3 separate regions of the Homo sapiens genome follow, and regions 2 and 3 are each linked to region 1. Evidence: fine-mapped expression QTL. Tissue or cell type: prefrontal cortex. Region 1 holds a variant in brackets; each other region holds the start of a gene. All regions are shown on one strand. Distances are between the middles of the regions.

Region 1 (8,102 bases):
TGCCAAGTTTCTCCTCTCTAGTTTCCCTGGTCTGGGCGCGGTGGCTCACACCTGTAATCCCAGCACTTTGGGAGGCCGAGGGGGGCGGATAACCCCAGGTCAGGAGTTCGAGACCAGCCTGGCCAACATGGTGAAACCCCATCTCTACTAAAAATACAAAAAAATTAGCCTGGTGTGGTGGCACACACCTGTAATCCCAGCTACTTGGGAGGCTGAGGCAGGAGAATCGCTTGAAGCTGGGAGGTGGAGGTTGCAGTGAGCCGAGATCACGCCACTGCACTCCAGCCTAGGTGGCAGAGCGAGACTCCATCTCAAATAATAATAATAATAATAATAATACAAAAATCAGCTGGGCGTGGTGGCGGGCTCCTGTAACCCCAGCTACTCAGGAAGCTGAGGCCTGAGAATCACTTGAAACCCGGGAGGTGGAAGTTTCAGTGAACCAAGATCGCCTCACTGCACTCCAGCCTGGGTGACAGAGCAAGACTCTGTCTCAAAAATAAAATAAGGCCAGGTGTGGTGGCTCACGCCTGTAATCCCAGCACTTTGGGAGGCTGAGGCGGGTGGATCACCTGAGGTCAGGAGTTCGAGACCAGTCTGGCCAACATGGTGAAACCCCATCTCTACTAAAAATACAAAAAATTAGCCAGGTGTCATGGTGGATACCTGTAATCCCAGCTATTCGGGAGGCTGAGGCAGGAGAATTGTGTGAACCCAGGAAGTGGAGGTTGCAGTGAGCTGAGATTGAGTCACTGCACTCCAGCCTGGGCAACAAGAGCGAAACCCTGTCTCCAAATTAATAAATTAATTATTTAAATAAGATAAAAAAGTTACCCTGTTCTTTTTGTAATTAACAAGTGATTCATGGGGATAAAGTTAAGACTCTCTTCCTCATTTTCTCATCAAAACCTCGTGCACTAGGCCAGGTGTGGTGGCTCACACCTGTAATCCCAGCAATTTGGGAGGCTGAAGCAGGTGAATCATGAGGTCAGGAGATTGAGACCATCCTGGCTAACATGGTGAAACCCTGTCTCTCCTAAAAAAAAAAAAAATTAGCCAGGAGTGATGGCAGGTTCCTGTAGTCCCAGCTACTCAGGAGGCTGAGGCAGGAGAATGGTGTGAACCTGGGAGGTGGAGCTTGCAGTAAGCCGAGATCACGCCATTGCACTCCAGCCTGGGCAACAGATAGAGACTCTGTCTCAAAAAAAAAAAACACCTCATGCACTAGTTTCAGCATTCAGGTGTGTGTGTTCTGTGTAGCCGGGGATGTGTATGGCTTCTCGCCTGGGAAATGTGTGTGAGGTGCTGCATCTTTTCATTCTGTGGACTGTATTAGTTTCCCATGGTGCTGTAACAAATTGCCACACACTTAAAATGACACAATTTTATTATATTACAATCCTGGAGGCCAGAAGTTGGAAGCGGGATTCAAAGGGATCAAGGGGTCAGCACGGCCATGCTCCCTCCAGAGGCTCCAGGGATGGATCTGTTTCGCTGCCTCGTTGCCAGTTTCCAGGGGCCTGCTTTCCTTGGCTTGTAGCCCTTTCCTCTGTCATCAAAGCCAGCAGTGTAGCGTCCTCTCTCTCAGCCTCTGCTGCTCTCTGCTTCTGGTGCATGGCCTTCTTCTGCCCTGTGTCAGACTCTCCTCTGCCCCCTCTTATAAGGACACTTGTGAAGGCATTTAGTGCCCGCCCAGATAATCCAGGATAATTCCCCCCATCTAAAGATCCTTCACTTAATCCCTTCCGCAAAGTCTCTTTTCCATATAAGATAAGATCTGTAGGTTCCAGGGATATCTCTGGGGGCTGTTATACAGCCTGTCTACCCCACCAGGCAGGAAGTCCCAGTTTATGGAATAAAGTTTTAAGAATCTTTGCCAAGGCTGGGTGTGGTGGCTCATGCCTGTAATCCCAGCACTTTGGGAGGCCGAGGTGGGAGGATTGCTTGAGCCCAGGAGTACGCGACCAGCCTGGGCAACATAGAGAGACCCTGTCTGTATTATTAAAAAATAATAAATTATATAAATAAATAAGAACCCCTGGCCCAGGCACAGTGGCTCAGGCCTAAAATCCCAGCAATTTTGGAGCCCGAGGTGGGTAGATCACCTGAGGTCAGGAGTTCGAGACCAGCCTTGCCAACATGGTGAAACCCCATCTCTACTAAAAATGTAAATATTAGCCAGGCATGGTGGCAGGTGCTTGTAATCCCAGCTATTCAGGAAGCTGAGGCAAGAGAATTGCTTGATCCTGGGAGGCGGAGGTTGCAGTGAGCCGAGATGGCGCCACTGCACTCCAGCCAGCCTGGGACACTGAGTGAGAATCCATCTAAAAAAAAAAAAAACAATATATATATATATATATATAAAAGATAGGGGTGGCCCTGTGGCTAGACTTCTCTGAAACTTTTTGTCTCCATGAACTTGAGCAAGTCTTGACCTCTTGTGCCTCAATGTCCTCATCTAGGGGTAACCATCGTTCCCACGTCCGAGAGCTGTTGTGTCGGGGAGGTGAGACAGCCTCATGGTTGCTGGCTGTTGTCACTGGTATGGAATGGGGGCCTCAGGTGGCCTGTCCTGGGACTTTGCTTTGACTCTTAGGGGACCATGGCCCCTTCCGTGACCAGGAGTCTTGGGGAAAGCATCTGTCTGTCAGGGTCACAAATGACCCTTTTTCTGCTGTGGTCTCCTCCTCCAGCTCTTCGGGCCCTGGCGTGAACCCTTCTCCCAGAGGCACATGCCCAGAACCCAGCAATGGCCAATGGGACCTTGATGGCCGAGGGCCAGGTGAGTCTGGGCTTCCTCTTCCCCAGGATAACTTTGTGGACTCCAGTGGGCCCTCTTCATCCCTGTGCATGATCTCAAGGTCTCCTGACTCTTCCAATACTGGGAAAGGGGGTATGAGGAGAGGGGAGCCGGGCAGTGCCCAGGGGCAGGAGGCAGAGGCAGAATGCTCTGAGCTGGGACCATGTCGCGCAGTCTAAACATTTTTCATCGAACACTGCAGCCTTTCAGTTACCAGGCAAAGTGGGCAATGGATGGTTTTGCTTCATCCCTGAGCCTCATCTCTGGAGTCAGGAATGGGGGTGAGGATCAGGGATGGGGTCTGGGATAGAATGGGACTTGCGAATATCTCCTGCACAAAACGGCTTGACGGATTTTTCTTTAAGTGTTTCTTAGGCTGAGCGCGGTGGCTCATGCCTGTAATCCCAGCACTTTGGGAGGCTGAGGCAGGCGGATCACGAGGTCAGATCGAGACCATCCTGGCTAATACGTTGAAACCCCGTCTCTACTAAAAATACAAAAAATTAGCCGGGCGTGGTGGCGGGCGCCTGTGGTCCCAGCTACTCGGGAGGCTGAGGCAGGAGAATGGCGTGAACCCGGGAGGTGGAGCTTGCAGTGAGCCGAGATTGCGCCACTGCACTCCAGCCTGGGGGATAGAGCGAGACTCCATCTCAAAAAAAAAGCATTTTTTAGGGCTGTCACTTAGAGCTGTGCAGGTTATGCACTGCACAAGTGTGCCTCATCCCAGGCAGGACTCCCACCTTATACCTCATACATTGGTGGCAGTTTGCAGGCAGTTTGATAAACTGTCATATACTAAATTAATTGGTATATTACAATGACTTCCCAACAGATGGCAGTAAAGAGTCATGTGAAAGGGCTCCTTGTTCTACTTTCTACCAAGGTGCCTATGGGCGAGTTTCTGCCTTAGATAGGTTCCCATAGGCCAGTTGGATTCAGGCATCCCAATTCTGCACAATCAGAATGTTCCAGCCCAGGGGGCTGTTGTGGGCTCTTGACCCCTGACACTTCTGCCCCCAAGTTCCAGAAGGACGTGCCACTCCACAGAATGAAACTGGCCCTTGCAGGAATCAGTGACCTTCAAGGATGTGGCGGTGGACTTCACCCTGGAGGAGTGGGGCTGGCTGGAGCCTGGCCAGAGGGAGCTGTATTCACCCAGTACCAAATGTAAATGTGTGCCCCAAATGCAGCAATCAAGATAAAAGAATATTTAATGCAATATTGGCCAGGCGCGGTGGTTCACGCCTGTAATCCCAGCACTTTGGGAGCCCAAGGTGGGTGGATCACTTGAGGTCGGAAGTTTGAGACCAGCCTGGCCAACATGGCGAAACCCTGTCTCTACAAAAAAAATAAAAATAAAAAATAAAATTAGGGTGAGGTGGCACACGCCTGTAGTTCCAGCTACTTGGGAGGCTGAAGCAGGAGAATCACTTGAACTCAGGGAGACTCTGCACTCCAGCCTGGGTGACAGAGTGACAATAATAACAATAACAATAATAATGCAACATTTTTTAAAAATCAAAATCAATGCAAAAAAAATCAATGATGAACAAAATATCAAATTTTTTAAAAAGGCCAGTCTCATGCCACATCAGACTGCTATTTCAAAGGAAATGTATGTGCCCCCATATACTTGCTTTTTTTTTTTTTAAGGAGAGGGGTTCTTGCTCCATTGCCCAGGCTGGAGTGTGGTGGTGAGATCATAGCTCACTGCAGTAACAAACTCCTGGGCTCAAGGGATCCTCCTGCCTCAGCCTCCTGAGTAGCTGGGACTACAAGCACACACTACCATGCCTAGCTAATTCCTAAATTATTTTTGTAGAGACAGGCTCTCCCCATGTTGCTCAGGCTAGTCTTAAACTCCCAGGCTCAAGTGATCCACCCACCTTGGCCTCCCAAAGGCCTGTGCTGGGATTACAGGCATGAGCCACTGTGCCCTGCGCAAGTTTTTATATATTTTTTCTAAATTTATTTTTCCTGGAATGCTAAACTAGTTGAAAAATACTGAAAAATGAAGTAAATGTGTTGAAATTCACAACATTATTTTACATTTAAATCTTTCATATATACCCTAGACAGAATTTGAATAATTTGACTTTCTTGGCTTTTAATGGAGGCAAATCTGTCATTAACACTTT[C/T]TTTTTTTTTTTTAATCATTCTTGGGTGTTTCTCGCAGAGGGGGATTTGGCAGGGTCATAGGACAATAGTGGAGGGAAGGTCAGCAGATAAACAAGTGAACAAAGGTCTCTGGTTTTCCTAGGCAGAGGACCCTGTGGCCTTCCGCAGTGTTTGTGTCCCTGGGAACTTGCGATTAGGGAGTGGTGATGACTCTTAAGGAGCATGCTGCCTTCAAGCATCTGTTTAACAAAGCACATCTTGCTCCGCCCTTAATCCATTTAACCCTGAGTGGACACAGCACATGTTTGAGAGAGCACACGGTTGGGGGTAAGGTCACAGATCAACAGGATCCCAAGGCAGAAGAATTTTTCTTAGTACAGAACAAAATGAAAAGTCTCCCATGTCTACTTCTTTCTACACAGACACGGCAACCATGCGATTTCTTAATCTTTTCCCCACCTTTCCCCCCTTTCTATTCCACAAAACCGCCATTGTCATCATGGCCCGTTCTCAATGAGCTGTTGGGTACACCTCCCAGACGGGGTGGTGGCCGGGCAGAGGGGCCCCTCACTTCCCAGTAGGGGCGGCCAGGCAGAGGCGCCCCTCACCTCCCGGACGGGGCGGCTGGACGGGCAGGGGGCTGACCCCCCCACCTCCCTCCCGGACGGGGCGGCTGGCCGGGCGGGGGGCTGACCACCCCCCCCCCACCTCCCTCCCGGACGGGGTGGCTGCCGGGCGGAGACGCTCCTCACTTCCCAGATGGGGTGGCTGCCGGGCGGAGGGGCTCCTCACTTCTCAGACGGGGCGGCTGCCGGGCAGAGGGGCTCCTCACTTCTCAGACGGGGCGGCTGGGCAGAGACGCTCCTCACCTCCCAGACAGGGTCGCGGCCGGGCAGAGGCGCTCCTCACTTCCTAGATGGGATGGCGGCCGGGCAGAGACGCTCCTCACTTTCCAGACTGGGCAGCCAGGCAGAGGGATTCCTCACATCCCAGACGATGGGCGGCCAGGCAGAGACGCTCCTCACTTCCCAGACGGGGTGGCGGCCGGGCAGAGGCTGCAATCTCGGCACTTTGGGAGGCCAAGGCAGGCGGCTGGGAGGTGGAGGTTGTAGCGAGCCGAGATCACGCCACTGCACTCCAGCCTGGGCACCATTGAGCACTGAGTGAACGAGACTCCATCTGCAATCCCCGCACCTGGGGAGGCCGAGGCTGGCGGATCACTCGCAGTTAGGAGCTGGAGACCAGCCCGGCCAACACAGCGAAACCCCGTCTCCACCAAAAAAATACGAAAACCAGTCAGGTGTGGCGGCGTGTGCCTGCAATGGCAGGCACTCGGCAGGCTGAGGCACGAGAATCAGGCAGGGAGGATGCAGTGAGATGGCAGCAGTACAGTGCAGCTTCGGCTGGGCATCAGACGGAGACCGTGGAAAGAGAGGGAGAGGGAGACCATGTGGAGAGGGAGACGGGAGACGGGAGACAGGAGAGGGAGAGGGAGAGGGAGACCGTGGGGAGAGGGAGACGGGAGACAGGAGACGAGAGGGAGAAAGGGAAGAAAGGACAGCCCCGACACCCGGAGCCACTGTGGCTCCGGCTGGATGCGCCTGCCCTCGGGCCCTCAGGGAGGCAGGGGTTCGAGGGTACGAGTTCAAGGCCAACCTGGTCCACATGGGTTGAAAAAAAAATTTTTTTATCGTTCCCAATATAACAACAAAACATAAAGGGAGGACGCCTTGATAGGAAGAAATGACATCTTCCTATGTGTTTTTAAATTACTTCAATGTATCTTTTTTTTTTTTTTGGGAGACCGAGGCTTGCTCTGTTTCTTGATTTCCAAGACGTCGTATGGTAAAAAATAACATAAAATCTTGCAAAAATGTTTATATTATGTTAAAATTATGATGTTTTAGGTATATTAGGTTAAATCAGCTATTTTATCAAAATGAATCTCACCTGTTTGTTTTTGCTTTTTTTTTTTTTTTTTTTTGAGATGGAGTCTCGCTCTGTCGCCCAGGCTAGAGTACAATGGTGTGGTCTCAGCTCACTGCATCACTGCAACCTCTACCTCCCAGGTTCAAGCCATTCTCCTACCTCACCCTCCCAAGTGGCTGGGATTACAGGAGTGTGCCACCACACCCAGCTAATTTTTGTATTTTTAGTAGAGACAGGGTTTCACCATGTTGGCCAGGCTGGTCTCGAACTGCTGACCTCGTGATCTGCCTGCCTCGGCCTCCCAAAGTGCTGGGATTACAGGTGTGGGCCACTGTGCCGGCCATGTTTCTCGACTTCTGCTGGCAAGCATGTTCCAGTATTTGCATGGCTCCTAGCCCTCATCTCCATTTCTCTGCACAGATGTTACCTTCCCCATGAGGTCTGCCTTATACATGAGGCCTGTATTATAAAGTGCAACTGCCAATTCGCCAACCCCGTTGTTTCTTCTCTCCAGAACACTAGGCACCATCTGATCTACTATGCCTTTTCCTTATTGTCAGATACTGAACTCTCAGCTACAGTTCCCCTTCCTCCCTCCAGGGGGCGCCATGGAACGCAGGGCCCTCACTGGCCCTGGGGACTGGGTGACGACAGGGGGGAGCCTCTGGTGATTGGCTCCCTCACCCTGCGTAAGATCAAAGGGCCTACAGGACAGCCCCGACACCCGGAGCCATTGTGGCTCCGGCCGGTTGCGCGGGCCCTCGGACCCTCAGGGTAGGCGAGGGTTCGAGGGCACGAGTTCGAGGCCAACCTGGTCCACATGGGTTGAAAAAAAAATTTTTTTATCGTTCCCAATATAACAACAAAACAGAAAGGGAGGACGCCTTGATAGGAAGAAATGACATCTTCCTAAGTGTTTTTAAATTACTTCAATGTATCTTTCTTTTTTTTTTTTTTTTGGGAGACCGAGGCTTGCTCTGTTGCCCAGGCTGGAGTGCAGTGGTGTGATCTTGGCTCACTGCAACCTCTGCCTCGTCGGTTCAAGGGAGTCTCCTATCTCAGCCTCCTGAGTAGCTGGGATTACAGTCGCCTGCCAAGAGATGGGGTTTCGCCATGTTGACCAGGCTGGTCTTGAACACCTGGCCTCAAATGATCCACTCGCCTTGGTCTCCCAAAGTGGTAGGATGACAGGCGTGAGCCACCGCGCCCAGCCTCTTCTATTCTTTTAGAGACAGGGTCTCACTCTGTTGCCCAG
Region 2 (8,100 bases), 98 kb after region 1:
AGTATAAACAAAGTTATATGTATTACTGGATGCTAATTAGAAACACTCCCCAAGCCTGGGGCCTGACATGTCTGTGAAGAGTGAACTGCAGGCTGCCTGTGCTCTCTCCTTGGTTACTTAGGCCCACACACAGACTGAAAAGTGTTGTTTGATGATGCATCTGAGGACCAGCTGAACTTGTGTGCCTCCTCAGTGGCGCATGCCCCGCCCAGACAGTGGGAAAACTGAGCTGCTCCCTCTTACTGATCGCCACCAGAAGCCCTCCCCAGCAAAGACGTGAGGCCTGGCAGGCAGGGACTGATGCGTGGCTGCATGGCAGCAGGCTGAGAGAAGGAACCAATGCTTTTAGACTCAAAACTTTAATCAGAGAACCAACAAATATGCACACACGGAGGGCGTTTCTACCTTGGCCTGCAGCAACACAGGTGACTGATTTACAGACTGCCCCCACACCCAATGGCTGCCAGTTTTCCATAGAGTCCCTATTGTGTCACAGCCCTGCAACACTTTGTACACTCTTTTGGTATACAACATGCCCATCTCCCCGACAAGACAGAGCTCCAGAGGACGGGAACCATGTGCGAGAAGTTAAATGTTGCAACCATTTGAAAAACAGTGTAAGGCCCCAATGGTTAGCCAACAGGTTCCCAGTTTCAACTAAGTTTAACAAACTTAACCAGCAGAACTCCAGGTGCAAGAGTTGAAAAGCCCAAGGGTGCAGAGCACTCACTCCCTCACCATTTTCAGCACCTAAAATATGAAAGGTATTCAAAGTATGTGTCCAGTGCTTTTCATAAGACTACTGTGTTTCAGCAAAGGTGTGACTGAGCCACTTAGTGGCAGGGAACAAACACCCAGAGCTGACAAGACACTGGTAGGGAACTGGTTGTGTGGTTCCATCTCACTGGACTCTCCAACAATCCTTGGTGATCCCAGAACTTCCTGTGACATGAGGGAATGTGGCATTTTCAAGATGTCACTTGTCAACTAACAGCAATCGTCGATGAAAATGGGTTCATTTCTGATTCCAGAAGCTTCAGAGCAGTAGTGCATAGTGTATGGATACTACCCGCCCCCGAGCCTAGCAAATTGCCTGGTGAGCGGCCATCCTGGATAAATGGTGAATGATGACATCCCAGTGGTCACTTCCACACACCACAGGTTTGACCCCTAAGTATGTCTTCCATATGGGTTGTTTCATATGCGGTTAACACCCTGATCAATGCAGCTTTCCTGATGGAATCCAGCTGTGTTTTGGTGTCAACTCCCATGAAAAATTGGGTGTCTTATTGCATAACCAACACTGTTAAATGGAGGAAGGTCATAGGAAGAGGGAGCATGTGTTTGTGGGATAGGGAGTCCTCTTTAAGTGAGAAGCTTGGGAGGTTAGGAGTGGAAGGTTGTAGCTAGTTGAGGTGAAGAGTTTACATGTTCTTTTTGGCTTTCTGGGGCTTAAGAAAAAAACCAGGAGAGATAAAGGGACAAAAAAGGCCAGGCACTTAAGAAGAGTAAAGTGCTGGAGAAAAACTGTAAAAAAGGAAAACTTAAATTAAAAGCGATACATTGTAAGAACATTAACTACAGTAAACACAGATTACTAATTCCTTTCTTGTAACACAAGTATATTTGTGCTATAGCTGATGTGTATTTGTGGCTTACACTTGGTGAGCCCTCATGTGCTGGCCATCAGTTCTAAGTGCTTCACATTTATTTATTTAATCCTCAGAAAAGCCCTCTGAGGTAGGTGATGCCCATTTTACAGATAAGGACACCGAGGCCCTGAGAGATTTTTCTGACCTTCCCAAGGTCACTTAGGTAGTAGATGGCAGAGGTGGGATTTAACTCAAGGTAGACTGGCTCCAGAGCCTACCTCTGAATCCTGACGTTGTACAGCTTCTCCACTTTTGTGTTTTCATTGTTATAATGAAAAACATGCGCACAAACTTTCTAATCAATCTTTAGATGCATTTATTTGGAGAGAAACTTGCAATGGGATAGTTTCCAACTTTCAACATCCGAGTAACGGTCTCATATTCTGGGACTCTGCTGCCACCCAATGGCTACAGGCAGTATTGCTGCTTGTTGTGTACACGCTGATGGCGGCTGAGGCTCGAGTGGCACCGAAAGGCTTTCTGGCAACGTTGACACTGATAAAGTGTCTCCTGGGTGTGAACTCTCAGGTGCTGGTTGAGATGGGCACTGAGGACAAAAGCTTTGCCACACACATTACAGGAGTAAGGCTTCTCCCCTGTGTGAATTCTCTGGTGCTGTGTTAGATTTGCTTTCTGGGCAAAGGCTTTCCCACATTCACCACATCTGTAGGGCTTCTCCCCAGTGTGAACTCTCCGGTGAATAGAAAGGCATGAGCTCTGGGTGAAGGCTTTCCCGCATTCCTGACAAACATAAGGCTTTTCTCCAGTGTGAATTCTCTGGTGGCGGACAAGCTCAGCACTCAGGCCGAAGGCCTTCCCGCAGTAATCACATACATAGGGCTTCTCACCTGAGTGAATTCTCTGATGCTTAGAAAGGCATGAGCTCTGACGGAACGTTTTCCCGCATTCGTTACACACCAACGGCTTCTTTCTGGCATGAGTTCGCTCATGCTGAACAAGGTAGTTTCTCTGGGTGAAGACTCTGTCACACTTACTACATTTAAAGGGATTCTCTCCAGCGTGAATTAACTGATGTTTTGAGAGGTGTGCACTGTGGCTGAAGGTCTTTCCGCATTCGTTACATTTAAAAGGGTGCTCCTTTGTGTGGAAGGACTGAAGTTTGATAAGGGAGGCACTGCTGATGGCTTTCCCTTGCTCACCCCATTTATACAGCCTCACTCTAGAGTGGATTCTTTGATGGTGAATGAGCCGAGTACTTTGGCCAAAGGCTTTCCCACACTGGTCACATTCAAAGGGCTTCACTCCCCTGGTGTGAATCCTCTCGTGCTGAGTTAGGTATTTGCTGCAGCTAAAGGTTTTCTCACATTTGTTACACTTAAAGCACTTCTCTTTCTGTTCTGGGTTCTGATCCAAGATCTTCCCACTCACAAAAAATCCTTGTTTTTCTCTGGCGTGAACACTCTCGTGGCACTTCAGGGTTGAGCCGCAAATGAAGCGTTCTCCGCACTCCTGACATTCATATGGGGTTTTGACAGTGTGCATTTTCTGGTGTTGCACAAGGCGATTGTTATCGCTGAAAGTCTCCTTGCATTCAGCACAGCTATAGGGCTTTTCTGCGGTGTGAATGGCCTGATGTCGCATCAGATGTGAGGGCCGGCTGAAACTCCTGACGCATTCCTGACATTTGTGGGGTCTGTAGCCTGTATGAATTCGCCGATGTTCATTAAGGTGAGTGTGCCGGTGGAAGGCCTTCCCACACTCACTGCATTTGTAAGGCTTCTCTCCACTGTGAACCCTCTGATGGATCTTTAGGGTAGAGTTATGCCTGAAGGATTTCCCACGTTCGTTACACTTATAAGGCTCCTCTCCAGCATGAAGAGCCTGGTGTTCAATGAGCAGCGAACTGTGCCTAAAAATCTTCCCACACTCCTGACACTCAGAGGTAGTTTTTGCAGCGTGAGTTTTCTGATGTTGGATGAGGTGTTTTCTCAAGTTGAAGGTCGCCTGGCACTTGGAACACTCATAGCGTTTCCGAGTGTGGATCTTCTGGTGCCGAGTAAGGTGGAAGATCCGGGTAAAAGCCTTGCCGCATTCGTTACAGTTGTAGGACTTACTATCTGTGTGAGTTTTCTGATGCTCACCAGGCTGTGTGTCATGACTGGGTGGGTGGTCACTATCTTGACTCTTACATGGTTTTTCTCCAGTGTGAGTTTTCTGATGCCACAGGTATGTACTCTGACTAAAAGTTGTCCCATATTCATTACACACATAGAATTTGTAGCCCGTGTGAGTTTTCGGATACACAGAAAGGGAAGCATTCCGGTCAAAACCTTGCTCACACTCTTGATGGACAGTGGGTTTCTCCCTAGTATGAGTGATCCAGTGCTGGGTAAGACGGTAACTCCCACTGAAGCTTTTCCCACATTCACTACATTGATATGGTTTCTCCCCTTCCTGAACAGAATCCTGCTGGCTGTGGTCGGAGTAGGAGAAAAACTCACCCCTATATTCCTTAGACTTAGCTGGTGTGAGGGTCTTTTCAGAAACATTATGCACCATGGAATCTTCTCCCGTGGAAACGGTGGACACAGGACTGAGTCCTCTCTTTAATTCATGACTCTTGCATTCCGTGGGACTTTCCCCGTTGGTGGCAATATCAGACCTCAGAAGACTTTCTGGATCGCCTAGCAAACTATCTAACCAGGTGTCCTCTATACAGGCTTCTCCGAAATTGGAGTTCCAGAAGCCATCCTTGGATAACATCTCTATAATCTCCTGGGAGAATCCTTCTTCGAAGAAATCCTCCATCAGAGGAGAGTTCTTGGTCTCAGTCACATCTGAAAGAGCAAGTGCAAATGTCTCCTGTTCACTAAGGGTGAGAACACAGACAAGAGCAAGTAGGGGTGATAGATCTTGAGTCCAGCCTATCCATCAAGGGACCCAAAGGGGTGACCCATGTGGAACTGGCATCACAGAAAACAGACAGAGCCCATTCCCAGGAGGGTCAAGAAGGGAGTTGGGAAACCATAGGGTTCAACGAGGAGGGAGATTCTACCATTACCTTCACACCTAAGTGACTGACCAAGTTCCCTAAAAAATCGCCTGGACTCACCTGCTTCTACTCTCCACTCTATCCTGTACTGTCACCAAAATCTTCCTCCTCATATCCTGCATCCTCTATCCCAGACAACACCCCGCTCTCCCCACACCACCATCCATCCAGTTCTCCATGCTAGAATCCTGGGAGTCAACCTCCTCCCTACCTCCCTCAACTTGGCACTATTTTCATTTGGTCTCTATCGAAATGTCTCAACTCCCTTCCTCTCCTCTCTTTATCACTGACTCAGCATCTGACCCCAGGCTGCTCATTGGTCTCCTGTTTGTCTGTCTCTCTCTCTCTCTAGTCTTCCACACTAGCCCTAAAGGGCTTTGTAGTTAATGGATCTGACTATATCACTCCTCTGATTAAACCCTTCCATGGCTTCCTGCCTGGAGAAAAGAAATGAGTGTATTAGCCCAGTGTTCTTTGTGCTGACCTCATAGAACTCTTGCGGTTCCCTAAATCCACCAGACTTTCTCCTCTGTGCCTTTAATGGTCCCTCATGCTGGATGGCACTTCCTGGACTAACTCCTCTAAGTCTTTTAATACCCAGCTTATCACCCTTCTCTGAAAGGCTTCCCTGACAACCCCATCCCCATTCTGCTTTAAGTCCCCTGCCCTGTATTCTCTGAAAACCAGCTGAGCACTGACCATCCTCTACCATAACAGGTTATGAAAGGGTCTGACCCCTGACCCTTACCAGAAGGTAAGTTCTTTAATGGGGACCTTCCACTGCTCATCCATCCACTGCCACAGAGGCGGCCACGAGAAAGATTCACAGGACAGAGTAATTCCCATTCATGGTATGCTTGTTCACAGGCAGGAGTGCCTCAGGCACTCTGTTACACTCGACAACCTCCTGTAAGGTAGGCACGTTTCTGCTTTCTTACAGGTAAGTGAGCAGAAGACTGAGGATTTGAACCCCTCTGACTATATATATATATATATATATATATATTTTTTTTTTTTTTTTTGGAGACTGAGTCTTGCCCTGTTGCCCAGGCTGAAGTGCTGCACGATCTCAGCTCAACGCAACCTCTGCCTCCTGGGTTCAAGTGATTCTCCTGCCTCAGCCTCCCGAGTAGCTGGGACTGCAGGTGCCCTCCACCACGCCCAGCTAATTTTTGTATTTTTAGTAGAGACAGAGTTTCAGCATGTTGGCCAGGCTGGTCTCGAACTCCTGACCTCAAGTGACCGGCCTGCCTCGCCCTCCCAAAGTGCTGGGATTACAGGTATGAGCCACCACGCCTGGCCCCCATATTCTTAACTACCAAGCTGTATGCTCTCTGGGATCCTTCACAAAACATGAATGTCACTGCTCTGCTGTATGCCTCCAGTCTCCCCATCTCTCCTCTCCTCCATCATCATACCTTTTCCAGCCTGTCCCTTGTGCAGTTCTTGGCTCACCATCTGAGTATCTATGAGACTGCTTAAAGTCTCTCTGCCTGGAATTAAAACTTGCAAATGAAAGCCTTCTGAAACCACATCTTGTTCTGAATTGTCACCTTTGCCTCTGCTCATCTCTCCCACAGATATCCAGCTCACTCTCCTCACCACACTTGTGCTCATGTTGTTCCCTCGGCCTCAAATGCACCAACAGACATGTAATAGGCACCCCTTATATGCCAAGCATGATGTCAGGAGCTGGGAATACAGGGTGAATCAGCTAAGCCCTGCTTCCAAGAGCGGCATGCTGTTAAAGGGGAAAGACGCTTATGTGGTAACTATGCAACTCAAGTGTCACTACTAGAGGATATGGAGGTATATTTGTTAGTAAAGGCATGGCTACCTATGTTTGGAAACAGCCAATATGCTGAGGTGACAGAAACAGAAAGCAGAAGTTGTGAGAGCCTGTGCATGAGTTAGTCACCTATGAGGAACACTGATGTGCTGAAGAGGAGGCTGCAGAGGCCTCATGTACACGAGCCTGAGCGTGGTGAGCCAAGAAGGGAGCTGCAGACTGACTGGATGGGGTACAGCCTGAGATTCCTGTGGTCTCTGGTTCAGGGCCCTGCTTCTCATGCTGGGGACGTCTCTACCATGGGTAATACCCCAGGAATCCTCACCACCTAACCTGATCCACCTGGAGGAACCCCGGCTTGGGAGATGGCAGGGCAGATGCTCTTGGCAGCATTCAGGCCTGGGCTTAAGTTACTCCCTGATGTGGCCATCTGCTATGCCCCAGGGATAGGAAGGAAAAATGGGCCTGAAGGAAAGGAGGTAAAAGAAGTAGAATGAGGGTCAACACACTCAGGGAGCACAAGGCAGGAAAGTAGAGAGACCAACTGAGAGAGTGGAGGGCGTACCCTTGTTGAGTCTGGAAGGAAAGAGGAGGAGCTGTGGAGAGGCACCAGGATAACCCTGTGCTGAAGGGCAAGGTAGAGAGACCCCAGAGTGAGGGTCTATAAAAATGTCCTGATCCCCCCAGCTCCCAGGACAAGGGGATGGAAGCCAGCGAGAAGCAGAGTGAAGTCCTGAAGCTGAGCGTTGTAATGTCTCGGTAGACCTGTGGGAAAGCTGGCTGCAGCCTCAGGATGGAGGTCTGGAAGACAGAAGGTACACAAGGGGCCCCTCTCCATCCACTCACCAGGGCTTGTTGCTTCTGGGCTTCCTCCTGCCAGAGGCTCCAGATCTTCACTGCCATCTGGGTGGGAGGTCAGGTTGGGTCTTGGGGGGTCTGCAGGGAGAGAAAAGCATTGTCACCCAACCAGGACATGGAGGACCATCCAGACACTCAGTGAGAACCTCCTGGCTCTCCTGACTTTTCTATGCTTTATCCTGCACGTGGCTCCTGTGTGTGGACGAGGTGCTGCACTGGGCGACTCTGGGGATGCCTGTCCTGTAGGGTTCCCAGTCCAGTGATGGAGAGGGAGCCAAACAATCACAATCCAGGGTGATCAAAGCTGTGACAGCTGGGGCTGGGGATACAAAGGACTTGTGACAGCTCTTTAATGGGCAGGATCTGCCAGGTGGAGAGGCACGTACTTCCTTAGCCATTCATGATTTATTCACTGACCCATGGGCCACACATTGCCTGAGGCCTCCATGGGCCAGGGACAGAAAATGTCAGGGTCCCAGAGCCCAAGCAGTCCTGAGCCATACCCTCCACAAGCTTCCCCAAGGAAGGGAACAGAGTCACCATCCAGGAGGGATACAGGCCACAGCGGAGAAAACGCCACTGCTGTCTTTGAAGACTGAGAAGCCATGAGTCAAGCAATACAGGTGACCTCCAGAAGCTGGCAACGGGCCAGGAAGGACTATCTACGTGCTGGAGCCTCCAGAAGGAACATGGTGGCCCTGCCAACACCTCGCCTCCAGCCCAGCCACATGCATTTGGAACTCCTGGCCTCCAGGACTGTAACATAATAAAAGTGTGCTGGTGGAAGC
Region 3 (8,100 bases), 120 kb after region 1:
ACGAGGTCAGGAGATCCAGACCATCCTGGCTAACGCGGTGAAACCCCGTCTCTACTAAAAATACAATAACAAAATTAGCCAGGCATGGTGGTGGGCGCCTGTAGTCCCAGTTACTCAGGAGGCTGAGGCGAGAGAATGGTGTGAACCCGGGAGGTGGAGCTTGCAGTGAGCCGAGATGGCGCCATGCACTCCAGCCTGGGCGACAGAGCGAGACTCCGTCTCAAAAACAAAAACAAAAACAAAACAAAACAAAGTCCCAGCGCAGTGTGGATCAGGCTGCATTTCATAATTGAACACTTTACCCTAGAGAAAAGTATCATCGTTCATTCTAGGTAGAATAATTTAAAGTTATATTTAAAAAATACCCTGTAGTAGTTCAGGTAAGGCACGGACACTAAATTTATGAAAAAAAATTTGTTGTTCTGAGTTGTCCAGATTTTTGAGACTACAAATATGGGAATATGGTAGACCTACAATAAATGCTAATTCTACTGAACAATGAGTTTTTCTACATGTCAGAGGTTAAGCCTCAACCTACGAGTATAACTCAGTTGACAGATATTTGGCCCATAATGTTTGTTGGCAGACAGAATGTTTTGAAAGAAAATTCAAGCATGGCTCACTAGTCTCAAACTTGAAAATTGGGAAATTTCACCTAAAAATTATGTTTCCAACTTCTGAAACATCCTAGGATTTGGCAACATTGGGTCTACATCCCACGAAGTTAGTTCACTGGTGCCCATTTAAAGCTCCCCCACCAGTGCTAGGCAAGTGGGGGATGCTTATAATCCCAGCACTTTGGGAGGCTGAAAGGTGTTCGAGACCAGCCTGGGCAACGTAACAAGACCTTGTTTCTAAAAAAAAAAAATTAAAAATGAGCAAGTTGTGGTGGCACGTGCCTGTAGTCCCAACTACTTGGGAGACTGAGGTAGGAGGATCGCTTGGGAGGCTGAGGTAGGAGGATCACTTGAGCCCAGGAGTTCAAGGCTGCAGTGAGCTATGATTGTGTCACTGTACTCCAGCCTGAATGACAGAGAAAGATCCTGCCTCCAAAAAAAAATTAAATTTGTTTTTTTTTTTTTTTTTGAGACGGAGTCTCGTTCTGTCGCCCAGGCTGGAGTGCAGTGGCGCGATCTCAGCTCGCTGCAAGCTCTGCCTCCCGGGCTCATGCCATTCTCCTGCCTCAGCCTCCTGAGTAGCTGGGACTACAAGCGCCTGCCACCACGCCCGGAGAATTTTTTGTATTTTTAGTAGAGACGGAGTTTCACCGTGTTAGCCAGGATGGTCTCGATCTCCTGACCTCGTGATCCACCCACCTCGGCCTTCCAAAGTGCTGGGATTACAGGCATGAGCCACCACACCCGGCCAAAAAAATTAAATTTAAGTTTAAAAAGCGGCTGGGTGCAGTGGCTCATGCCTGCCATCCCAGCACTTTGGGAGGCCAAGGCAGGCGGATCACCTGAAGTTTGGAGTCCAAGACCAGCCTGATCAACATGGTGAAACCCCCGTATCTACCAAAAATACAGAAATTAGCCAGGCATGGTGGTGCACGCCTGTAATTCCAGCTGCTTGGGAGGCTGAGGCAGGAGAATCGCTTCAACCGGGGAGGTGGAGGTTCCAGTGAGACCGAACTCCAGCCTGGGTGACAGAGCGAGACTCTGTCATCAAAAAAAAAACACAATTCTCCCCTTCAGATGAGGCAAGTGCTCCCCAAGGCCCCGCAGCCTCACCTGGACCAGTTCTCTTCTTTCCTGTATGTCATCTGCCTGGCCCTCACAGACAGCTGAGCTTGAGATCCCTGTCTGCAGTTACCAAATCACATTCTGCCCACATCTCATATACTCTCAGCTCTGGGAGGAAAGAAACGAGGGCCCAGAGGTGGAGCCCAAGGTCATCCAGCCCAGAGTGACTTAAGCCAAACAATTATCAGGCTGAGAGACCTTGGGCCCAAGAGTCTTGCCCTTCCTTCCAGACCATTTACCTTCTCTAAGCCTTAGTTTCCACATGTACCAAATGGAACAAATACAACAGATCTATGGTCCTTTAAATGCTCCAAAAACCAGAACTTGATTTATAAACTGACCGCAAAACTTCACCTGGATTGCCACAGGCCATGTAGGGTCTTAATGTTCTCATAAGTGTGAATATTCACACCTTGCCCCACAGAAACATTTTATGACCAAAAACTGGCCCAGATTCCTCGGGGTGTGGGGGGGTGCTGCCTAATTATAAAATATGCACCCTATTAGCTTTCTAAAATCTGAAAAATTCTGATTCCCGAGATTGCCTTGGTGCCAAGGGGACCTGCACTTATGTCTCAGTGCTGCTGCGGGGATCAGAAGAGGAAATGCAACTCCAGCAGGGCGCCTGGCACACAGAAAGCACTCAAATACTGTAAATGTTAAGTACTTCAACTTCCCGAAGAACTCCCATCCATCGTCCAGCAAGATTCTGCCTAAATTTGCCAACTTCAGGTAACTCATTCCCCTCCTTCCCCAACCAAAACCAAAATAAAACAGAACCACTCCTCTCAGGGCCATCAGGGAGGCCTGGAAACCCCTTTAGCAGTTTTCTTTTCTTTTCTTTTCTTTCTCAGCTCACTGCAACCTCTGCCTCCTGGGTTCAAGCAATCCTCCCACCTCGGCCTCCCAATTAGCTAGGAATACAGGGGCGCACCACCACGCCCGGCTAATTTTTCTATTTTTTTCTTCTTTTGTGGAGACAGGGCTTCACCATCTGGCCCAGGCTAGCCTCGAAATCCTGGGCTCAAGCGATCCGCCCACCTCAGCCTCCCAAGGTGGTTTTCTTCCTTTCTTTTTTTTTTTTTTTTTTTAAGATGTAGTCTCGCTCTGTCACCCAGGCTGGAGTGCAATGGCGCGATCTCGGCTCACTGCAACCTCCAGCTCCTGGGTTCAAGCGATTCTCCTGCCTCAGCCTCCTGAGTAGCTGGGATTACAGGCCCCCGCCACCACGCTCAACTAATTTTTGTATTTTTAGTAGAGACTGGGGGTTCGAGGAACTCCTGGCTGTAAGTGATCCCCCCCGCCAAGGCTTCCCAAAGTGCTGGGATTACAGGCGTGATCTACCGTGCCCAGACCTTGAGCGGTTTTCATAACAGACTGTGAAAGACGGTTCACACCTTCACCCTGACAACCGCCGCCCAAGGCGACGCACCCTTTGCCGAAGTCGCCCCCACTTGCATTCCGTCACCTCTCAGGAAGGACCGAGCCCGCAAGTCCCTCAGCCCCAGCGTCTCCGTACCTCGGGATTGTAGTCGGCCGCGTCAACAGACGCAACCCCAGCCTCAAGGGAGCGGGAGATTCAACTCCCCGCACACGCGCCTCCTCGCAGCGACTTCCTGTGCGCGAGAAGCTTCTCTGAGCGGCTGCACCCAGGATCCTCCGCGGCAGCGCCAGGACTCTATTTCCCAGAGGGCTGTGCGGGCGACTTCTTTCGCCTTCCCATCTCCTCCTGCTTCTTCAGCCTTAGCACTGTGGGAGTAGAGTAGAAAGAGAATCAGGACCAGGCGGCATCAGTTTGTAGTCCAGATTTTTACCTTGTTAAAGAATCATCTAATTAGCTTCTTGCCTTTACTAGAAGTCAGGGAGTGTTAACCTTTTCCGAAGAGCAAGCGGTAGGTTGCCATGGAAACGCGTTGTGACGGGTTTCTGAGAAAACAAGCGGAAGTAAGGGGCGGAGTTGAGGCAGAAGTTTAGGTAATGTGACCTCTGATTGGTGGAGAGGTACCTCACGGTGCATTCCGATTGGTCTGACACTGACACATGCGCAGTAGAACCAGAAGGCGTTCCAAAGCGGCTAGAACGGAGGGGAGGGGGATGAGCAATGAGGGAATAATCCCCATTCCGTCTGGAATCAGAGGGCGGGCCTGCCGCGGAGGCATCTGGGAAACGGAGTTCCCAGGCAGGCGAAGCCCAGGGGCCGTCAGGAAGTCAGCGGCGCCTGCGCGGGCGCCTCAGATTCAGGATGCGCGCGCAGCGCTCTCCGCCCAGCGGAAGTTTTCGCTGGGCAACTGAGAAGGTGAGTCCGGGTAACTGCGGAGGATCCGAGGGTCAGGCTGCAGAAGCCCAGAATCCCACCCCAGTCCCCAAGTACAGAGGTGAGGGGAAGCGAGGCGAACGAGGGGACGTCCCCCGACCCCCTAGCCGCAGCTCGGCCGGGGCGTCCGTGACGTCAGCACGACCGTTTGTGGGAGGCGGAGGCCCCTGCTGTCGGGGTTCGGAATGAGAGCGGCTCCGGGTCGCGGGGTTCACTGGCCTCCTCTTGAGCTTCCCAAGCCACCTTGGGCTCCGTGTTGGGCATGGCTAAGGCGGAGATGGGCGGAACTTGTGGGAAGTTCGACAGCTCCTCCGCTGTGAAACTTGGCGTCTAAGTCATCCCGTGGTTTCTATGGAGGTGCGGCCGAAGGGAGGCTCTGTCGTCGCCTAGGCAATCGCCCCACCTGCGCTGAGGTGGGGTCTGACTTTTAGCCTTTTTGCTGTGCTGTTTCCTGAACTTTCTAGGAGGAACACTATACAGTAGTTGACGCATAGCAGCTGTTCCCTAAACATTTGTTGAATAAGTCAAATAAATTAAGATAAAGACTGGCCTGAGGGTTGGAGTCTTAGGGTTTCAAGTCCTGACCTGGCCATTGCATAGGTGACTTCAGCACATCCAATTTTATTGAGCGTTTACTATATGGAAGGCTCCGTGCAACCGATATTACACTACTATAACCTGGGTTTGAACGGTGCTAGTCTAATAGGCACTGTTCAAGCCCAGGTTATTATAGCAGTGTCTAAAACAAAAATCCTGCCCAGCTAATTCACATTCTCAGGGTGGTTGGGGATGCCAGACACTAAAAAAGAAATGTTAAAGAATATTTACAGGTCTGCAGTCCCTTATCTATAACTTTAAAATCCAAAACGTTCTGAAAACTGAAAGGTCTTTTTCTCTGTTTTGCAACTTACTTGGCAGGCCAACCTCACCTGGCTTTGAACTTGTTTGCTGGCAATACCCACTCTGAACTGATGTGTGACTATTTAGAATTTTTAAAGATTTTGTTGTGCAAATCATATACTTATGGAGAGTTGCCCCTGGATCTCGCCGGTGTTGTAATATGTAATAGGTTCTAAAATCCAAAAAATTTGGCTGGGCACGGTGGCTCCCGCCTGTAGTCCCAGCACTTTAGGAGACCGAGGTGGGCGGATCACCTGGGTTCAGGAGTTCGAGACCAGCCTGGCCAACATGGTGAAACCCCATCTCTACTAAAAATAAAAAAATTAGCCGGGCATGGTGGCATGCGCCTGTAATCCCAGCTACTCGGGAGGTTGAGGCAGGGAGAATCGCTTGAACCCAGGAAGCGGAGGTTGCAAGTGAGCTGAGGTCGTGCCACTGCTCTCCAACCTGGGTGACATAGCAAAACTCTGTCCATCATGCAATACATGGCAGAAGCAAGATCCAAACCCAGGCAGATTATTTCCCAAGTTTATCCTCTTAACCCCTGTACTGATCTGCTTCTAAGTGGCACGTCTTTTTTAGGGACCATCCAGCTAGATAATTCCGGCCCTGAGCTTTGAGTCTCTGGCTGGATGTCTAGATTTGCCTGAGAGATGAATGTGTACTGACACAGCTGGGGACCCCCCCCACCCACCTTCTTGGCACATTTTCTTTTGCAAAGGAGACAATGATTTATTCACTCAGCAGACGTAGACCCAGCATTTGCTCTGTGCCAGGCCTGTTTGAGGCTCTGGGCACACTGTGGCAAACAAGGCAGGGAAAAGTCCCCGCCATCATGAAGCTTACATTCTAGTAAGTCAGAGTATGTCAGGTAGTGACAAGCACTGTGAAGAAAAATAAAGCAAGGTAAGGAGGATAAAACATGCTATTAGTAAAATGGTGTCCAGGGCCAGGCACGGTGGCTCGAGCCTGTAATCCCAGGACTTTGGGAGGCTGAGGGGGATCACCTGAGGTCAGGAGTTTAAGACCAGCCTGGCCAACATGGTGAAACCCCATCTCTACTAAAAATATAAAATTAGCCAGGCGTGGTGACACGCATCTGTAATCCCAACTACATGGGAGGCTGAGGCAGGAGAATCACTTGAACTCGGGAGGCAGAGTTTGCAGTAAGCCGAGATCGTGCCATTGCACTCCAGCCTGGGCGAAAAGAGCCAAACTCCATCTCAAAAAAAAGAAAAGAAAAAACACAGTAAAATCGTGTCCAAGAAGGTCTCTGAGAAGGTGACATTTGAACAGAGAGCTAAAGAATGTGATGAGGAAGTTAACTGTGTGCACTCTTAGGGGGACAGCGTTCCAGGCAGATGGGAGAGCAGGTGCAAAGGTCTTGGGGAAGAAACGTTCTTGTCACGATTGGGGAAAAGCACCGAAGCTGTTGTGGCTGACTCAGCGTGAGCAAGGGGAGAGGTGGGAGAGGTCAGAGAGGGAACAGGGAAGTGGCAGATCATACAGGGGGCTCCTGGGCCATGGTAGGAATTTCAGCATTTATTCTGTCTAAAATGAAATCCACCATACGGTTTTGAGTAGAGGAGGGACAGGGTCTGACTTACATTTTATTTATTTATTTGTTTATTTATGAGACTGAGTCTTGCTCTGTTGCCCAGGCTGGAGTGCAGCGGTGCAATCTTGGCTCATTGCAACCTCTGCCTCCCAGGTTCAAGCGACTCTTGCGCCTCAGCCTCCCAAGTAGCTGGGATTACGGGTGCCCACCACCACGCCCGGCTGATTTTTTTTTTTGTACTTTTTTAGTAGAGACGGGGTTTCACCATGTTGTCCAGGCTGGTCTGGAACTCCTAACCTCACGTGATCCGCCCACCTCGGCCTCCCAAAGTGCTGGGATCACAGGCGTGAGCCACCGTGTCCGACCCACCATATGGGCCAGGGCAGGGACACAGACAGGGTCTGACTTAGATTTTAAGTGGATCCGTCAAGCTACTGGGTTGAAAATAGATTGTAGGGACAAGCGTAGAAGCCGAAAGTCTAGTTAGGAGGCTGCTGCAGTAGCACAAGGGAGAGATGGTGGCCTAGACCAGGCTGGTGACGGTGTCAGAACCGGGGGTGGCACATGGTTAAAAGACTCTCTTGCCGTGGTTCCACACCCAACATCAGCTTCCAGATTTAAATCTACAAGAATGTTCTGACCTGCTGCCCCAAGAACCCAGTCCGGTTTTGCGTTTTCGTTGTATAAATTGGCACCAGGTGAAGAACATGGGCTTTTGGGTTCTGGATTTCAGCTGCGTCCCCACTGTTTTCTAGGTGAGTGGAGTCAGGTCTGGGGGAAGGAGAATTGTCACCCTTTGAGCATCATTTTGTAGGTTTCAAAGATGGGATAATCATCCCTACCTCATAGAGTGGAGGGAAAGATTAAACAAAATCATGTGTCTGGCTCGCCGCTTAAGAGGTTTGTGGCCCTGGGCAAGTCATTTGCTCTCTGAGCCTCTGCTTCTCATCTCCCCAAAGGGGAAATCATTCTTACCTTGAAAAGGGTGATTGGGAAGGTTCTGTAGATAATACCTGCCGAGAACTTAGCACAGTGGTCTGCACATACTGAACTGTCATGAAATGAGAACCGTCTTAAGTGAGTGACTTGACCTCTCTGTGCAGCAGGGACTCCCTGTCCCGGTTACTATGTCTAGAGAACAAATCGTCCCACAATTCACTGGTGTAGAACCACCATTTCTTGTGCCCATGGATCCTATGGGCCAGGAATTCAGAGTGAGCACAGTGAGGTGGCCTGTTTCTGCTCCCCAGTGCCTGTGCCTTAGCAGGAAGACTTGAAGGCTGGGGTTTAAGTGGTCTGAGGACTTGCCCACTCACCCAGCAGCTGATGGTGGCTGTTGGCCAGGGGCCTCAGTTCCTCTCCACCTGAGCCTCTCCATGTGGTTTCTCTGCCTGGGCTACTTTAGGCTGCCTCATGCCGTGGAAACTGGCTTCCATGGGTGAGCATCCTGAGCGAGCCAGCCAGGTGCAAGTTGTTTTTTATGACCCAGCCTGGGAAGTCTCATGGCCTTACTGCTGCCGGTCCTCTATTGGTAGGAGCAGTCACAGCTCTGCCGAGATCCAAAGGGGGAGGAACAGAGACCCTGA

Direction of the effects. Alleles are on the strand shown, and positions count from the first base shown. SD is a standard deviation of normalised expression in the study named.
With allele T in place of C in region 1, the expression in prefrontal cortex of the gene that starts at base 4,431 in region 2 is higher (large effect, 2.0 SD a copy in BrainSeq).
For the expression in prefrontal cortex of the gene that starts at base 3,379 in region 3, C is the low allele of the variant in region 1 and T is the other (large effect, 1.5 SD a copy in BrainSeq).

The links. PIP is the estimated chance that this variant, and not a neighbour inherited with it, causes the effect.
Region 2: ZNF473-AS1 starts here. The variant in region 1 is fine-mapped to the expression of ZNF473-AS1 in prefrontal cortex (BrainSeq, PIP 0.95).
Region 3: ZNF473 starts here. The variant in region 1 is fine-mapped to the expression of ZNF473 in prefrontal cortex (BrainSeq, PIP 0.95).

The regions. Positions count from the first base shown.
Region 1 is chr19:50,138,707-50,146,808 of GRCh38, reverse strand. It overlaps SNAR-B2 (small NF90 (ILF3) associated RNA B2), which reads left to right and starts at 7,572; the gene lies at 7,572-7,691. It overlaps SNAR-D (small NF90 (ILF3) associated RNA D), which reads left to right and starts at 6,489; the gene lies at 6,489-6,607. It overlaps LOC105372436 (a long non-coding RNA gene), which reads left to right. Exons shown (of 3, transcript XR_936021.4): 2 at 2,694-2,782. The variant C/T (reference allele first, on the strand shown) is at 4,939.
Region 2 is chr19:50,041,020-50,049,119 of GRCh38, reverse strand. It overlaps ZNF473-AS1 (ZNF473 antisense RNA 1), which reads left to right and starts at 4,431. Exons shown (of 2, transcript XR_007067295.1): 1 at 4,431-4,488; 2 at 6,246-8,098. ZNF473 (zinc finger protein 473) reads right to left here. Exons shown (of 5, transcript NM_015428.4): 4 at 7,301-7,390; 5 at 344-4,450. The coding sequence ends at 2,061.
Region 3 is chr19:50,021,284-50,029,383 of GRCh38, reverse strand. ZNF473 (zinc finger protein 473) reads right to left here and starts at 3,379. Exons shown (of 5, transcript NM_015428.4): 1 at 3,262-3,379. VRK3 (VRK serine/threonine kinase 3) reads left to right here and starts at 4,012. Exons shown (of 15, transcript NM_016440.4): 1 at 4,012-4,117. RefSeq lists enhancers at 3,226-3,275, 3,686-3,735, 4,076-4,155, 4,205-4,706.